4 linked regions of the Homo sapiens genome follow. The protein of the gene in region 4 purifies or fractionates together with the protein of the main gene of each other region. This does not show direct contact. Each region holds a gene or a part of one and is shown on either strand. Other genes may lie near its edges.

What was found. The genes of interacting proteins can lie anywhere in the genome.
Region 1: the proteins of ACTR2 (region 4) and PPME1 fractionate together in Homo sapiens (co-fractionation; one large-scale study listed by BioGRID). This does not show direct contact.
Region 2: the proteins of ACTR2 (region 4) and ARPC4-TTLL3 purify together in Homo sapiens (affinity purification with mass spectrometry; 2 studies listed by BioGRID, with this or other methods). This does not show direct contact.
Region 3: the proteins of ACTR2 (region 4) and HSPBP1 fractionate together in Homo sapiens (co-fractionation; 2 studies listed by BioGRID). This does not show direct contact.

Annotation. Positions count from the first base shown.
Region 1 is NC_000011.10:74,177,789-74,181,288, forward strand, and holds part of PPME1 (protein phosphatase methylesterase 1), read left to right. Parts: intron 1-3,500. UniProt on the Homo sapiens protein: Demethylates proteins that have been reversibly carboxymethylated. Demethylates PPP2CB (in vitro) and PPP2CA. Binding to PPP2CA displaces the manganese ion and inactivates the enzyme.
Region 2 is NC_000003.12:9,823,548-9,827,047, forward strand, and holds part of ARPC4-TTLL3 (ARPC4-TTLL3 fusion protein), read left to right. Parts: intron 1-2,252; coding exon 2,253-2,401; intron 2,402-3,449; coding exon 3,450-3,500. Other genes in the region: tubulin monoglycylase TTLL3, read left to right, coding at 2,253-2,401, 3,450-3,500.
Region 3 is NC_000019.10:55,266,611-55,270,110, forward strand, and holds part of HSPBP1 (hsp70-binding protein 1), read right to left. Parts: intron 1-3,500. UniProt on the Homo sapiens protein: Inhibits HSPA1A chaperone activity by changing the conformation of the ATP-binding domain of HSPA1A and interfering with ATP binding. Interferes with ubiquitination mediated by STUB1 and inhibits chaperone-assisted degradation of immature CFTR.
Region 4 is NC_000002.12:65,244,831-65,248,330, reverse strand, and holds part of ACTR2 (actin-related protein 2), read right to left. Parts: intron 1,808-3,500; coding exon 1,592-1,807; intron 1-1,591. UniProt on the Homo sapiens protein: ATP-binding component of the Arp2/3 complex, a multiprotein complex that mediates actin polymerization upon stimulation by nucleation-promoting factor (NPF).

The DNA.
Region 1 (3,500 bases), on a different chromosome or scaffold from region 4:
AAGAAATATGGTATCTTTCAATTTGTATGAATCCCTTTTGAAGGAAATATATTTCAGATTCCAAGTATTGACCTAAGTTATATTCAATCTAATATTACTTAAATTCAATAGTACTCTTAAATAATTGTGAAACTCAGTAGATTTACTCTTTAAATACAATTAAGTCTACAAAAATCCCCAAACTCACATTAGCAACATTATATTGATGTGAAACAATCTAATTTGCTGTTATCAGTTTACTGTAGTTTAAACTACAAGGACATTTATTATTGATAGGATGTTCCAGGGTTCATTCAGTTGCTAAACAATTTCATTCAGGACCCAGGCTGTTTGCATCCTTTCTTTTGCCATCCTTAGAATGGTGGCTTTTCCTTCTCTTGCTTGTCACCTTATGGTTGCAGGATGGCTGCTGCCACTCTACTTCTATCTTATCTTTACAAATAAAAAGAAGCGGGGGCCAAAGTCCTTTCCTAGCTAAGCTTGTCTTTTAATTTTTTCCCAGAAATGCAAGCTCCCCAACAGATTTTTCCCTTAAGTCTTATTGTCCAGAACTGTTCACATACCCATCCTAAAACCAATCACTGGCAGTAGGGAATGGGATTAACTATGACTGGTTTAGACCAATTTTGATTCATTCCCTTGGACTGGAGGAGAGACAACAAGAGATCTCCACTAGCTGCTCAAACAAAAGTATTACAATTCTGTTAGGGAAGAGAGAGTGGGAAGTGGGCAGGTAATGTCTGGAATAGAGAATAAACAGCATCTGGCCCAAATCCTGAGGTTAACAAGTGGAGAAGCCTAATCTTCTGATTTCAACTTCCCTACTGTTTTCATTGCAGTGTAAGTATAGGAAGTAATAATCCCACCCCCAACTCCCCTGCCCCTTATTGCCAGATTTCAGCCCCTTGACATTCATTTCAGAACTTCTGAGTAAAAGTCCGTTTTTCCATTGTTGCTTATTGCCAGCAAATCTATTTCTTCTTAGTATCTCCAAAATTGGGTAATTTGCTCTTTTGTTTTATTTTAAACCTAATGAGCCTTCCATGTTATGCTACTTGATGTCAGATTTCAGAAAACATCTCTAGTTGTTTGGGAAAGACTGTTTCCTTCAAACTACAAAATAGTTTTTTTTTTTTTAAGAGAAGAAACTTTTAATTAATAGTTCTATTAAGAGGGTGGCCACACTTAGATATTCTTCAAATACAATATTGATTACAAGTTACAGGTATATTCTACCAATATATTTTGAAGATTGAATAAGAGATTATATTGAAAATTCCAATCATTTCAAACCACACCGGAAGACCGAAGTTGTTTACTTATCAGTCCTTTTCCTATATGCTTCTGTGTGTGTTTTTGGCCATAGACTTTTTCCAGGTTTAAGTAGACATCCTCTCTCTGCCACTAACAAGTTGTATGACTCTGGTCAGTTTCTCTTCCTGGGCCTCGTTATCATGGAAAGAAAGAACGCTTTGGCACCTGACGTACTTGTTTAAATCCAAGCTCCCCAGCCTGGGCAACATAGGAAAAACTTGTCTGTACTAAAACAAAACAAAACAACCAGGCATGGTGGTGCGCACCTGTTAGTCCCAGCTACTTGAGAGACTGAGATGGGAGAATCACTTGAGCCTGGGAGTTTGAGGTTGCAGTGTGCTGTGATCGTGCCACTGCACTCCAGCCTGGGAGACAGAATGAGACCCTATCTCTAAAAATAGTAATTATAAAATAAAAAGTCAAATCCAAGCTCCGGTGCTACCAAAAATGGCTCTGGGAAAGTTATTTAGTATTTCTGAGTCACCTTAAAATGAGAATACTTTAATGGTACTGTTCAAAACCATGCTTGGTACGTAATAAACACCTAGTTGTTTCCTTTCATAAAGTAAGATTTGAGTTAGATGATCTCTAACAGCATGATTCATGATGTAGTTTTTAGAATCCTGAAGTCTGCTGCTTAATGGCATGCCTTGGAGTAAGGAACACTTCAGACCTACCACAACCCTCAGCCAGCCATCTGGTTGCTTTCTTTTCATTCTCTTCAAAGTACTGCTAATAAGGACATTTTAAAAACAGTGGTGCCTTGATTTAAATAGCTGGCTGCAATTAAACTTCAGTATTTAGCCTCCACTACCAGACTCCTAGACTTTGACAGAATTTGTGACAACAAGTGATTAAGACTGCTACTGTGCCCATTCATGACTCATCAATAACTCTCTTAACAGACTTAAGCAGCCTAGATGTTGATGTGTTATTCCTATTTAGATTTGAGACATTCATGTAAAAACATACAACTTACATTTCTTGGTTATTGTTCTCTAGGCAAGGAAGGTTTTTCCTCCTTCCCTTTCTCCCCTTTCTCTCCTTCCTCCTGGCTTTCCTTAGGATTTGATCATATAATTTTGTTGGTTTTGGTCATTATCTCCTAGTAGGCATATCACATTGTAGACAAGCAGAACATTCTCTATTCTCCTTAGTCCTCTGAATTGTAATTATTGGTCAACTGTGTATTCCTCAAAACTGTTGAGGTTCATAAGGGTAGGAATTGTGTCTGAATTTTGCTGGTGCTTAGAATGCTGTCTCCTTTAGTGCTAACTGAACGAGAAACCCAAATCCTGGCCTATTTAACCCCGTTCTATAAGAACAACGTTATTTCCCCATCAGTTCCCTTAAGATGGTATAACTAGGGCTATACTGCCTTTCTCCTAAAAGCGGTTATACTTCATAGAATAATAGAATCTCTATTTCAATACCAGCTTTTAGGTAAAATGTATTGTGTTTACAATATGTTACTTTGAGATTTAAAATAATTATATGGTCGAAACTCTTGTAATAGGTCTTGTAATAGGCTTGTAATAGGTCTCATGATATGTACAGATTCAGGCTTGTTACTTTTATTTTATCAAAATTTGACAATTTATGTCTTCCTCTTTGATTCCCCAAACCTGAAAGCAAGTCCACTATTATAAGACAGCAAATGTCAATTAGCAATTATTTTCACACTAGCCTTATTTTATAGTATTCAATTTTTCTGCCCTTGCCCAATTTATCACTTATTCTCTAAGAGCGAAGACTATTTTCCAAGCACCTTCACCAAGTTTAGGGACCAGAGCAAGTGGTCCACCATTAAAGGCTAGTGTTAAAAGCGCTCCAAAGTCATGTCCTAAGCAGTGGTAATTTCCTAAGTGTTTCTTGCACTTAACAATTGCCAAGTTTATTTTGTTGGCAATGCCTTCCATTTTCTTCACTTTTTTTTTTTTTTTTTTTTTTTTTGAGACGGAGTCTCGCTTTGTCGCCCAGGTCGGACTGCGGACTGCAGTGGCGCAATCTCGGCTCACTGCAAGCTCCGCTTCCCGGGTTCACGCCATTCTCCTGCCTCAGCCTCCCGAGTAGCTGGGACTACAGGCGCCTGCCACCGCGCCCGGCTAATTTTTTTTTTGTATTTTTAGTAGAGACGGGGTTTCACCTTGTTAGCCAGGATGGTCTCGATCTCCTGACCTCATGAT
Region 2 (3,500 bases), on a different chromosome or scaffold from region 4:
AAATTACGCTCCTGTGTGATATTTTCCTGGGCCACATCACAGATTACTGAAAAGATACTTCATGCTACGGACCACAGAAAAGTTTGTCAGGACATAGGTGTGAGTACTCCTGGGAGACCTTGCCTAGCCCCCTGCATCTGGCTGTCCCTGTTCCTGGCACTGCCCCAGTGGCTGCTGCCTCCTCCTTAAAAAAGAGAAAGTTCTCCATGACTGGAGACACTCAAGATGCTAAGATGTCACAGAGTTAGCTTCCCCTGAACAGGAGGCTCCCGTCCTATTCAGTCAGAAGGAAAGAAATGCGAGAGTCTGGATGAGGCAGCCATCTGGGGTATTTTGTGACTTGGTTTAGTTCAGGACATTTTCTGTCTTGTAGAGAACAGGGTCCCTCTTTGTCCATGAAACCCTGTCCGTGCAGCCCAGTTGCTGAGGCAAGCTCCTACCAAAGTACTTGCTGAGCCAACCGTTCATTCATTGAGCAAACTTCCAGGGAGTACCTGCTGAGTGCCAGGTGTGGTGCTTGGGGATGGGGATTATAGCAGAGAACAACTACAGAAAATGTTCCTGCTCTTACGGAGTTTACATTGTAGTTAGGGGATTCAGACAATAACCAAATAAGCACATGTGTTAGGTGGGGGTAGATGATGGGAAGAAAACAAGCAAGAAGAGGTGTGATATAGAAGTGCTTGAAAGGAATTAGGCTAACATTGTTTCAGCCAATATTAGGCACAGATTAAGACAGGAATGAACCCCAAAAAGCACCTGTGGGTGGAGGAATCAGACAGGACAGAGTTTGAATCCTGGCTGAACCACTCAACTTTCAGTGTATGGCCTTCGGTAAGTCCCTTAACTCTCAAAGCTTCAGTTTACTCTTTTTGTTTTTTGAGATGGAGCCTCGCTCCGTTGCCCACACTGGAGTGCAATGGCGCGATCTCGGCTCACTACAACCTCCGCCTCCTGGCTTGAAGTGATTCTCCTGCCTCAACCTCCTGAGTAGCTGGGATTACAGGTGCCCACCACCACACCCGGCTAATTTTTGTATTTTTAGGAGAGATGGGGTTTCACCATATTGGCCAGGATGGTCTCAATCTCTTAACCTTGTGATCCGCCCACCTTGCCCTCCCAAAGTGCTGGGATTACAAGCGTGAGCCACTATGCCCGTCCCAGTTTACTTTTTCTTTTCTTTTCTTTTCTTTTTTTTTTTTTTTTTTTTTGAGACGGAATCTTGCTCTGTCGCCCAGGCTGGAGTGCAGTGGTACGATCTCGGCTCACTGCAACCTCCGCCTCCCTGGTTCAAGTGATTGTCCTGCCTCAGTCTCCCAAGTAGCTGGGATTACAGGCACCTGCCACCATGCCTGGCTAATTTTTGTATTTTTAGTAGAAACAAGGTTTTGCCATGTTGGCCAGGCTGTTCTCGAACTCCTGACCTCAGGTGATCCGCCTGCCTCCGCCTCCCAAAGTGCTGGGATTACAGGCAGGAGCCACCGTGCCTGGCCCAGTTTACATTTCTCTAAAATGGGACCAGAGCTGGGTGTGGTAGCTCATGCCTGCAATCCCAGCATTTTGGGAGGCTGAACAGGAGGATGGCCTGAGGCCAGGAGTTCAAGACTAGCCTGGGTAACATAATAAGACCCATCTCTGCAAAAAATAAAAATTAGCTTGGGTGTGGTGGCGTATGCCTGTAATTCCAACTACTTGGGAGGCTGAAACTTGGACCTAGGAGTTCCTGGCTGCACTGAGCCGTGATTTCACCACTGCACTTCAGCCTGGGTGACAGACCAAGACCCTGTCTCAAAAAAAAAAAAAAAAAGTCGGGGGGTAGGGGGTGGGTACTAGTAATACTTCCCTGGCAGGGCCTTGAGGGCATTCGTGAAAATATATGGAAAGCCCTTGTCACAATGCCTGGCACATAGTGGTGCTTTATCATTAGGAACTGGAATGATTAAATTCTGTCAAAGACAGTTTTAATGTAATAGGAAGGGGGTGGCACAGGTGGAGTGTTGGAGTAGGGGGTGGTTTGCAGTTAATGGAATTTTATCAGCCTTTCCCATTTGTGTAGTCTGGGCAGGTTAGGATTTCCGGGGTGGCTTGAAGGTGGGGCCGGAGGCTTGGGAGGGACCTATGGATATCTGCAGGGAGGGCGTGACCAAGGCTGCCTGGATGACGGCGGGGGATGGTGGAATATATCTCCCCCTGCCCTCTCCACCTGCATGTCCCAGGTCCAGCCCTGCCCAAGTTCTATCATTTCCCCACAGCGAAGGGGCAGAACTCAGGCACCTCGACACTCAGGTCCAGCGCTGTGAGGACATCCTGCAGCAGCTGCAGGCCGTGGTACCCCAGATAGACATGGAAGGGGATCGCAACATCTGGATCGTGAAGCCAGGAGCCAAGTCCCGCGGACGAGGTGGGGGTCAGCTCCTGCTTCCTGCACTGGCACCTCACCACCTGCATCTACCAGTAGAGGCCAAGGAAGTTAATAGTGCAGGTCTATTGAAGCCAAATTGCCTGGGTTTGAGTCCTAGCTCTGCTACTAATGTGCTTCGTGACCTTGAGCAGGTTTTAGCGCCTCCCTGAACCTCAGTTCCCTCATCTGTGACATGAGGAGGATGATAATACCTCCTGTGAGGTGAGGATTAAATGCAGTCATGCAGCTAAAGCACTATTCCAAATCCTCAACGTGCTTCAATTTATGCAATCCTGGGAAACGGAGGCACGTGTAGGCTTTCACATGATCCAGAAGGATATCCATAAGGTCCTGGAAGCAGCAGTTGGCTGCCTCTAGACAAGGAGATACATTTTTTATTGTATGCCCTTTCGTACTGCCTAATTTTTGTTTTGTTTTATAGTCTATTTATTATTGGTAGGAACGTAATAGGTGCACATACTTTAAAAAAGCCCCCAACACTGGCCAGGTACAGTGGCTCATGCTTGTAATCCCAGCAGTCTGGGAGGCCGAGGCGGGTGGATCACTTGAGGTCAGGAGTTGGAGACCAGCCTGGCCAACATGGTGAAACCCTGTCTCTACTAAAAATACAAAAATTGGCCACGTGTGGTGGCAGGCACCCATAATCCCAGCTACTCGGGAGGCTGAGGCAGGAGAATCACTTGAACCCGGGAGGCGGAGGTTGCAGTGAGCTGAGCTCGTGCCACTGCACTCCAGCCTAGGTGACAGGGCTGTCTCAAAAAAAAAAAAAAAAAAAAAAAGTCCAGCACTTTAAATTTGTATCCATGTATGTATTCCTGTTTAATCAAACAAAACTGGTTAATTAGGAAAAATTTAAAATCCTTAGCAAATTCCTGGCTTTCCCAAAGGGAACTGGGTTCTGATTGAGGGAGACAGCCTTACCCACTCAGCCCTATCAGCTCCGAGGGGACAAGAGCTCATGACAAGCTGGCCCTTCTCCTGGCCCACGCCTGACCTTCCAATCCCTGACTGCCCTCTTCCCCCGTAGGCATCATGTGCATGGACCACCTGGAGGAGATGCTGAAGCTGGTGAACGGCA
Region 3 (3,500 bases), on a different chromosome or scaffold from region 4:
TCATCATCACTACCATTAACAATATAATTATCGTCAATCATCGTCACCATCATCACCACCAACCACTATCATCCCTTGCCATGGGCCTGCATATGCAAGCATTATCTTTTTTTGAAGTATGCTTTTGAGATATAATTCACAATCCACACAGTTCAGCCTTTTAAAGATATTCACAGGGTTGTATAACCATCACCACTAACTCTAGGAAATTTTCATCACCCCCCAAAGGAAACCTATGAGCAGTCATTCCCAATTTCCCTTCCCTCTGGCCCCTGCAACCACAGATATACTTTCTTCCTTTATGGATTTACCTGTCCCAGACATTTAATATAAATGTGTCCATAAAATACGTGACCTTTTGTGTCTGACTGCTTTCACTCAGCATGATGTTTTCCAGGTTCATTCATGTCGTAAGTGGTATCAGCACTTCATTCTTTTTCATGGCTGAATAACATTCCATTGTATGGATATACCATATTTTATCCATTCCTCCATTGATGGAAGCATCATCTTTTTTAATTTTTTTATTTTATTTATTTACTTATTTATTTCATTTTGAGATGGACTCTCGTTCTGTTGCCCAGGCTGGAGTGTGCAGTGGAGCAATCTTGGCTCACTGTAACCTCCGCTCGCAGGTTCAAACTATTCTTCAGCCTCAGCCCCCCAAGTAGCTGGGATTATAGTAACCTGCCACCACACCCGGCTAATTTTTGTATATATAGTAGAGACAGGGTTTCACCATGTTGGCCAGGTTGGTCTCAAGCTCCTGACCTAAAGTGATCCACCTGCCTGGGCCTCCCAAAGTGCTGGGATTACAGGCATGAGCCATTGCGCCCGGCTGTGTCATCTCTCTCTTTTTTTTTTTTTTGAGACAGAGTCTTGCTCTATCATCCAGGCTAGAGTGCAGTGGCACCATTTTGGCTCACTGCAACCTCTGCTTCCCAGGCTCAAGCTATTCTCCTGCCTCAGACTCCCGAGTAGCTGGGATTACAGGTATGCACCACTACACCCAGCTAATTTTTGTATTTTGAGTAGAGACAGGGTTTTGCCATGTTGGCCAGGCTGGTATTGAACTCCAGACCTCATAATCCACCTGCCTCAGCCTCCCAAGGTGCTGGGATTACAGGCGTGAGCCACCGTCCCCAGTCCGCAACATCTTTTAATCCTCACAATTATCCTGGAAGTGTGTGCTTTCAGAATTCTATTTTACAGATGAGGAAACTGAGGCCTAAAGAGCCAGGCTACACAGCATGCATGACCTTTATCCAGAGGGCAATGAGAACTCTGGAAGGACTCCCAGCAGGATGAGAACTGACCTTTGGAGTGCACCTCCAGTAAGGTGCCCCCTCCTGGGTAGGCTCTAGGCCTGTGCTGGCCAAGAAGGACAGAAGCTGCTAGTAGCTTGTGGCCACTAAACACCTGATATGTGGCCAGTGCAACTAAGGAAAAGAGTTGTTCATTTCATTTAAGTTCCATTCATTTAAACTTAAGGTGAAAAACTGAAGCAGTGTAAAATATTTTCCATTAAACACAACGTTGGCTGGGCGCGGTGGCTCATGCCTGTAATCCCAGCACTTTGGGAGGCCGAGGTGGGCAGATCACTTGAGGTCAGGAGTTCGAGACCAGCCTGACCAACATGGTGAAACCCCGTCTCTACTAAAAATACAAAATTAGCTGGGCGTGGTGGCGTGCGTCTGTAATCCCAGCTACTAGGGAGGCTGAGGCAGGAGAATCATTTGAACCCGGGAGGTGGAGGTTGCAGTGAGCCGAGATTGCGCCATTACACTCCAGCCTGAGCAAAAAGAGCGAAACTCCATCTCACACACACACAAAAAGAAAACCAAAAAAAGAAAAACACACACAACGTTGTTGCTCTGGCGCACTCCACACTACCCCTGAAAACTCAGCATGTTGCGATGTGCTTCATTTGTAAAATGCACACACTAGGTTTTGAAGACTTAGCATGACAAAAAATACAGTGTCTCATTAATAGTCCATATTAATTACACATTGAAATTATAATAGTTTGGACATATTGGGTTACATATTTATTTATTTTAGTTTATTTTATTTCATTTTTGAGACAGAGTCTCGCTCTGTCGCCCAGGCTGGAGTGCAGTGGCAGTTGGCTCACTGCGACATACGTCTCTCGGGTTCAAGCAATTTTTATGCCTCAACCTACCGAGTAGCCGAGATTACAGGCATGCCCCACCATGCCTGGCTAATTTTTTGGTATTTTTAGTAGAGACAGGGTGTCACCATGTTGGCCAGGCTGGTCTTGAGCTCCTGGCTTCAAGTGATCCACCTGTCTCGGCCTCCCAAAATGTTGAGATTATAGGCATGAGTCACCACGCCCAGCCAGATGTTATTTAATTAAAGAAAGAAAAAAGAACAGGCATGCATGGACTGGAAAACACAAAGACTCCTCTCATTCAATCTGTAAGCAAGGCCTGTCAGCTCTACCTTCAAAATGTACCCAGGAGAGACCTGTCCCCTTTACGCCAGGGTTTCTCCACCTGGGCACGGTTGGTATCTGGGGCCAGATCATTCTGGGTTGGGAGGCCCGTCCTGTGCATTGCAGGATGTTGAGCAGCATCCCTGGCCTCTACCCAGTAGATGCCAATAGTCCCTCTCTCCCAGCTGCGACAACTAAAAATGTCTCCAGACATTTGTCTAAATGTCCTGTGGAGGACACGATTGTCCCTGTTTGAGAACCACTGCTCCCTACCACAACCTTGATCTCTTGCCTAGGTTATCACCATAACCCCCCAGCTCACCGCCCACCTTCCACCCACCCTCGCCGCATTCACCCTCTTCTCTGTGCAGCAGTTGGGGGCAGGGATCACAGTATGGCTGCCGTCATTTTTGGAAAGAAAGCCAAAGTCATCACTGCAGCCCACACATCTCCCTTAAAAAAGTTACGCTTATTCAGCGCTAAAAAGAAATGAGCTATCAAGCCAAGAAAAGACATGGAAGAACCTTAAAAGCAGATTACTAAGCCAAAGAAGCCAGTCGGAAAAGGCTGCAGATTGCATGGTTCCAAGCATATGACATTCTGGAAAAGGCAAAACTATGGAGACAGTAAAAAGCTCAGGGGTGGGATGACTAGCGGGAGCACAGAGGATTTGTAGGGCAGCGAGATTCCTCTGTAGAATACTACAGTATGGATCCATGTCATGATACAGTTGTCCAAACCCATAGTACATACAGCATCAAGAGTGCGCCCCAGTGTCAACTATGGACTCTGGGTGACAATGAGGTGTCCATGTAGGTTCATCGATTGTAATAAATGTGCCACTCTGGTAGACTGTAACAAGGAACCACTTTGGAGTGGCTCCACAGAGGGCGAGCGAGTCCATCCCCTCCTGTCCTGGGAAGGGCAGTGGCACCACCGCCTCGGGCAGCAGGAGCTGAGGGGACGTACCCTGCAAATGGCTCCCAGCACGGAACTCCAGTAATGGTACTGGACAGCCACACAATGGCATACCCTGCAGCCACCA
Region 4 (3,500 bases):
CCTCCTGGGTTCAAGCGATTCTCCTGCCCCAGCCTCCCAAGTAGCTGGGATTACAGGCACGCACCACTATGCCCAGTTAATTTTTGTATTTTTAGTAGAGATGGCGTTTCACTATGTTGGTCAGGCTGGTCTCGAACTCTTGACCTCGTGATCCGCCCACCTCGGCCTCCCAGAAGTGCTGGGATTACAGGCCTGAACCACCACTTCCAGCCGCCCAATTCCTAATTAGAGCCTACAAGGCACCAATATTACTTACTCGACCTCATCTTCTGTTGCTCTCTCCTCAACCACACTGGCTTCCTTGCTTATTCTTTAATATACCAAGCTTGTTCCTAACTTAAGACCTTTACACTGGCTACTCCCTTTATCTGGAATACCATTCTCCTATATACCCTGGCTAACTCACTTACCCTGTCTGTTTAAACATCACCTTCTCACAACCTATGTACAATTACAACCTCCCACTCCCCGTTAACCTGATTTATTTTGCCTTTAGCATCTACAGCTGATCCATGAATAACAACAAGTTTGAACCACACAGGTCCACTTATACACGATTTTTGTCAATAAATCTTTCCTGCCTCCCCTTGCACCTCTTCTGTCTCTGCCACCCGAGACAGCAAGACCAACCCCTCCTCTTCTTCGTCGGTGTGAAGACAATGACGATGAAGATCTTTATGATGATCTACATCCACTTAAGGTATAGTAAATGTATTTTCTCTTATGATTTTTTATTTTTTTTTGAGACGGAGTCTCGCTCTGTCGCCCAGGCTGGAGTGCAGTGGCACGATCTCCACTCACTGCAAGCTCTGCCTCAAGGGTTCACGTCATTCTCCTGCCTCAGCCTCCTGAGTAGCTGGGACTACAGGCACCCGCCACCACGCCCGGCTAATTTTTTGTATTTTTAGTAGAGACGGAGTTTCACTGTGTTAGCCAGGATGGTCTCGATCTCCTGACCTTGTGATCTGCCCGCCTCCGCCTCCCAAAGTGCTGAGATTACAGGCGTGAGCCACCGCGCCCGGCCATGATTTTCTTAACAGTATTTCCTCTAGCTTACTTTATTGTTAAGAATATAGTATATAATACATATTATGTTATCAGTAAGGCTTCTGGTCAACAGTAGGCTATTAGAAGTTAAGTATTTTGGGTGGTAGTTAAGTTTGCACGTGAGTAGGGAGGGTTGGTGCCCCTAACCCCTGCATTGCTCATGGGTCAACTGGATCACTCACCTTCTAACAAACCATTTAATTAACTCTGTAACTGCTTATTGTATTAGCCTTTTCAGTCTCCTTCTGCTGGCTCCTCCATAAAAACTTAATTAACTTAATTAACTCACTAAATTAAAAACTTAATTTTTTTGGTCTGTTTTTCCCTGTTAGAATATATACACTCCATGGCAGTAGGATTTTTTGTTTACTGATCTATCCTACTTTCCTACTTAGAATAATGACTAGCATATAGTAGATACTTAATAAGATCTGAAGGAAAACAATTATTTTTATTCTCTTTATCCATAGCAACAGTAAGAAAATTTTTGATTTAACATAATATCACAGAAATACACATATGCATATCCTGCATAAAAACTCACCTCTACAATCTTCTCTCTGTTTTTGGTTGGGTTCATAGGAGGTTCTGTGAGTAAGATTTTACAATTTCTGGTATCTATATTAAGTTTCTCTGGTCCAAATGTGTAGTCCCACAGGTGTTTCATGTCATCCCAATTTCGTACTATGCCATTTTCCATAGGGTAGTTAACTTCTAACATTGATCGTAATTCACTTGCCTCATCACCAACCATAAGATCCTAGAAAATTATGTCAAAGCTGTAGATCAAAGTTTTGCATAATATTTAAGAAAACTTGGGAATAATTAATTTTAATATTTCTGACACTTGCAAAATAAATCTTTTTATTCCACAAGTTAGAAAATCTTTTCTATCAAGAACAATGTCTTAGAAAGTTTAATCATGGATAATACATTTTTACATACAATGTGGTTTAAATCAATAAATTGACCTTACCTTTAACACAAATGTTTCCAAAAGAAGAGCATTAGCACAAATAAACCCCACATTTTCATATTTTGGAGGGTTTTGTATGAGGTTTCATCTGTTTCTTTTGCTCAATTGTTCAAAAAATAAGGCCTGTGATATGTGAAATAGCACATCAGGGGGAAAAAAACTTGTAGAAAAATGCTCAATGCATGCAGCACATTTCTTTGCACTAAATATCAAAATGATAAATGTAAGTACTATAAAGCATAATGAAAGAAGCAAAAAATAAAATGATTCTTTATTACTCTATAATAATGCATACATACACCAACTAATAAATAGCACAAACTTCTATCTACATATGCCTGAATAAGAATTTAAACTGTTTCTACATATGCCTCACCAAGGTGAATGAGAATTTGTAGAGTTATAAAAAATTAAGATATAGGCAAATAACCCATCCTTTAAAATTGTCTCCTGAGCAACATTTTCAATCTTAAAGTATACTGGAAAACTACACCATCACACATGAAGCATAATACTCACAAGTCTTGTCTCCAATGAGAGCATACTTAAGATGACCCACATTTGAAAGTCACATTTTCTATATATAATAAGTAAGGATGTCCTAGCATTTAGACTTATTTTTAGAGAACAGCTAGTCAAGAGGTTAAATAATACTAATTTCTACATATGTTGATAAATTCAATTAAAAAAACTAGTATCAGAAGTAGATATTTGCTACAATACGTTAAGTTTTAATTATGGAGAGACAAAAAAAAGCAGCAGCAAAATTAACACGAGATTATTTTTTTGAGACTGAGTCTCGCTCTACTGCCCAGGCTAGAGCGCAGTGGCATGATCTCAGCTCACTACAACCTCTGCCTCCCAGGTTCAAGCGATTCTCCTGCCTCAGCCTCCTGAGTAGCTGGGATTACAGGCACCTGCCACCACGCCTGGCTAATTTTTGTATTTTTAGTAGAGATGGGGTTTCACCATGTTGGCCAAGCTGGTCTCAAACTCCTGACCTCAAGTAATTCACCCATCTCGGCCTCCCAAAGTGTTGGGATTACAGGCATGAGCCACCACACCTGGCCAACATGAGATGTTTTAAAACAAAGGCTTAAAAATATATGAGTTTTAAATTAAAAAAAAAAGAAAAAGAAAATATCAGAGATGAAACCAAGGTGAGGACTCTAACAAAAAACCAAACAGATCTCTGGAAAATCCACTAAAAGCATCAAAAAGTATAACAAAGTTAAAAACAGATGCTAGAAATGCTCAGTAAAAATTTGTTGCAATTTCTTATGAAGTTCATTTACCATAACTTACTAACTTATTACTCAAATATCTGAAATATTAAATGTTTACACTCTTTTTTTTTTTTTTTTTTGAGATGGGGTCTCACTCTGTCACCCAAGCTGGAGTGCAGTGGTGCCATTATTGCTTACCACAGCCTCAACCTCCCCAGGCTCAGGTGATCCTCCCACCTTAGCCTCCCAAG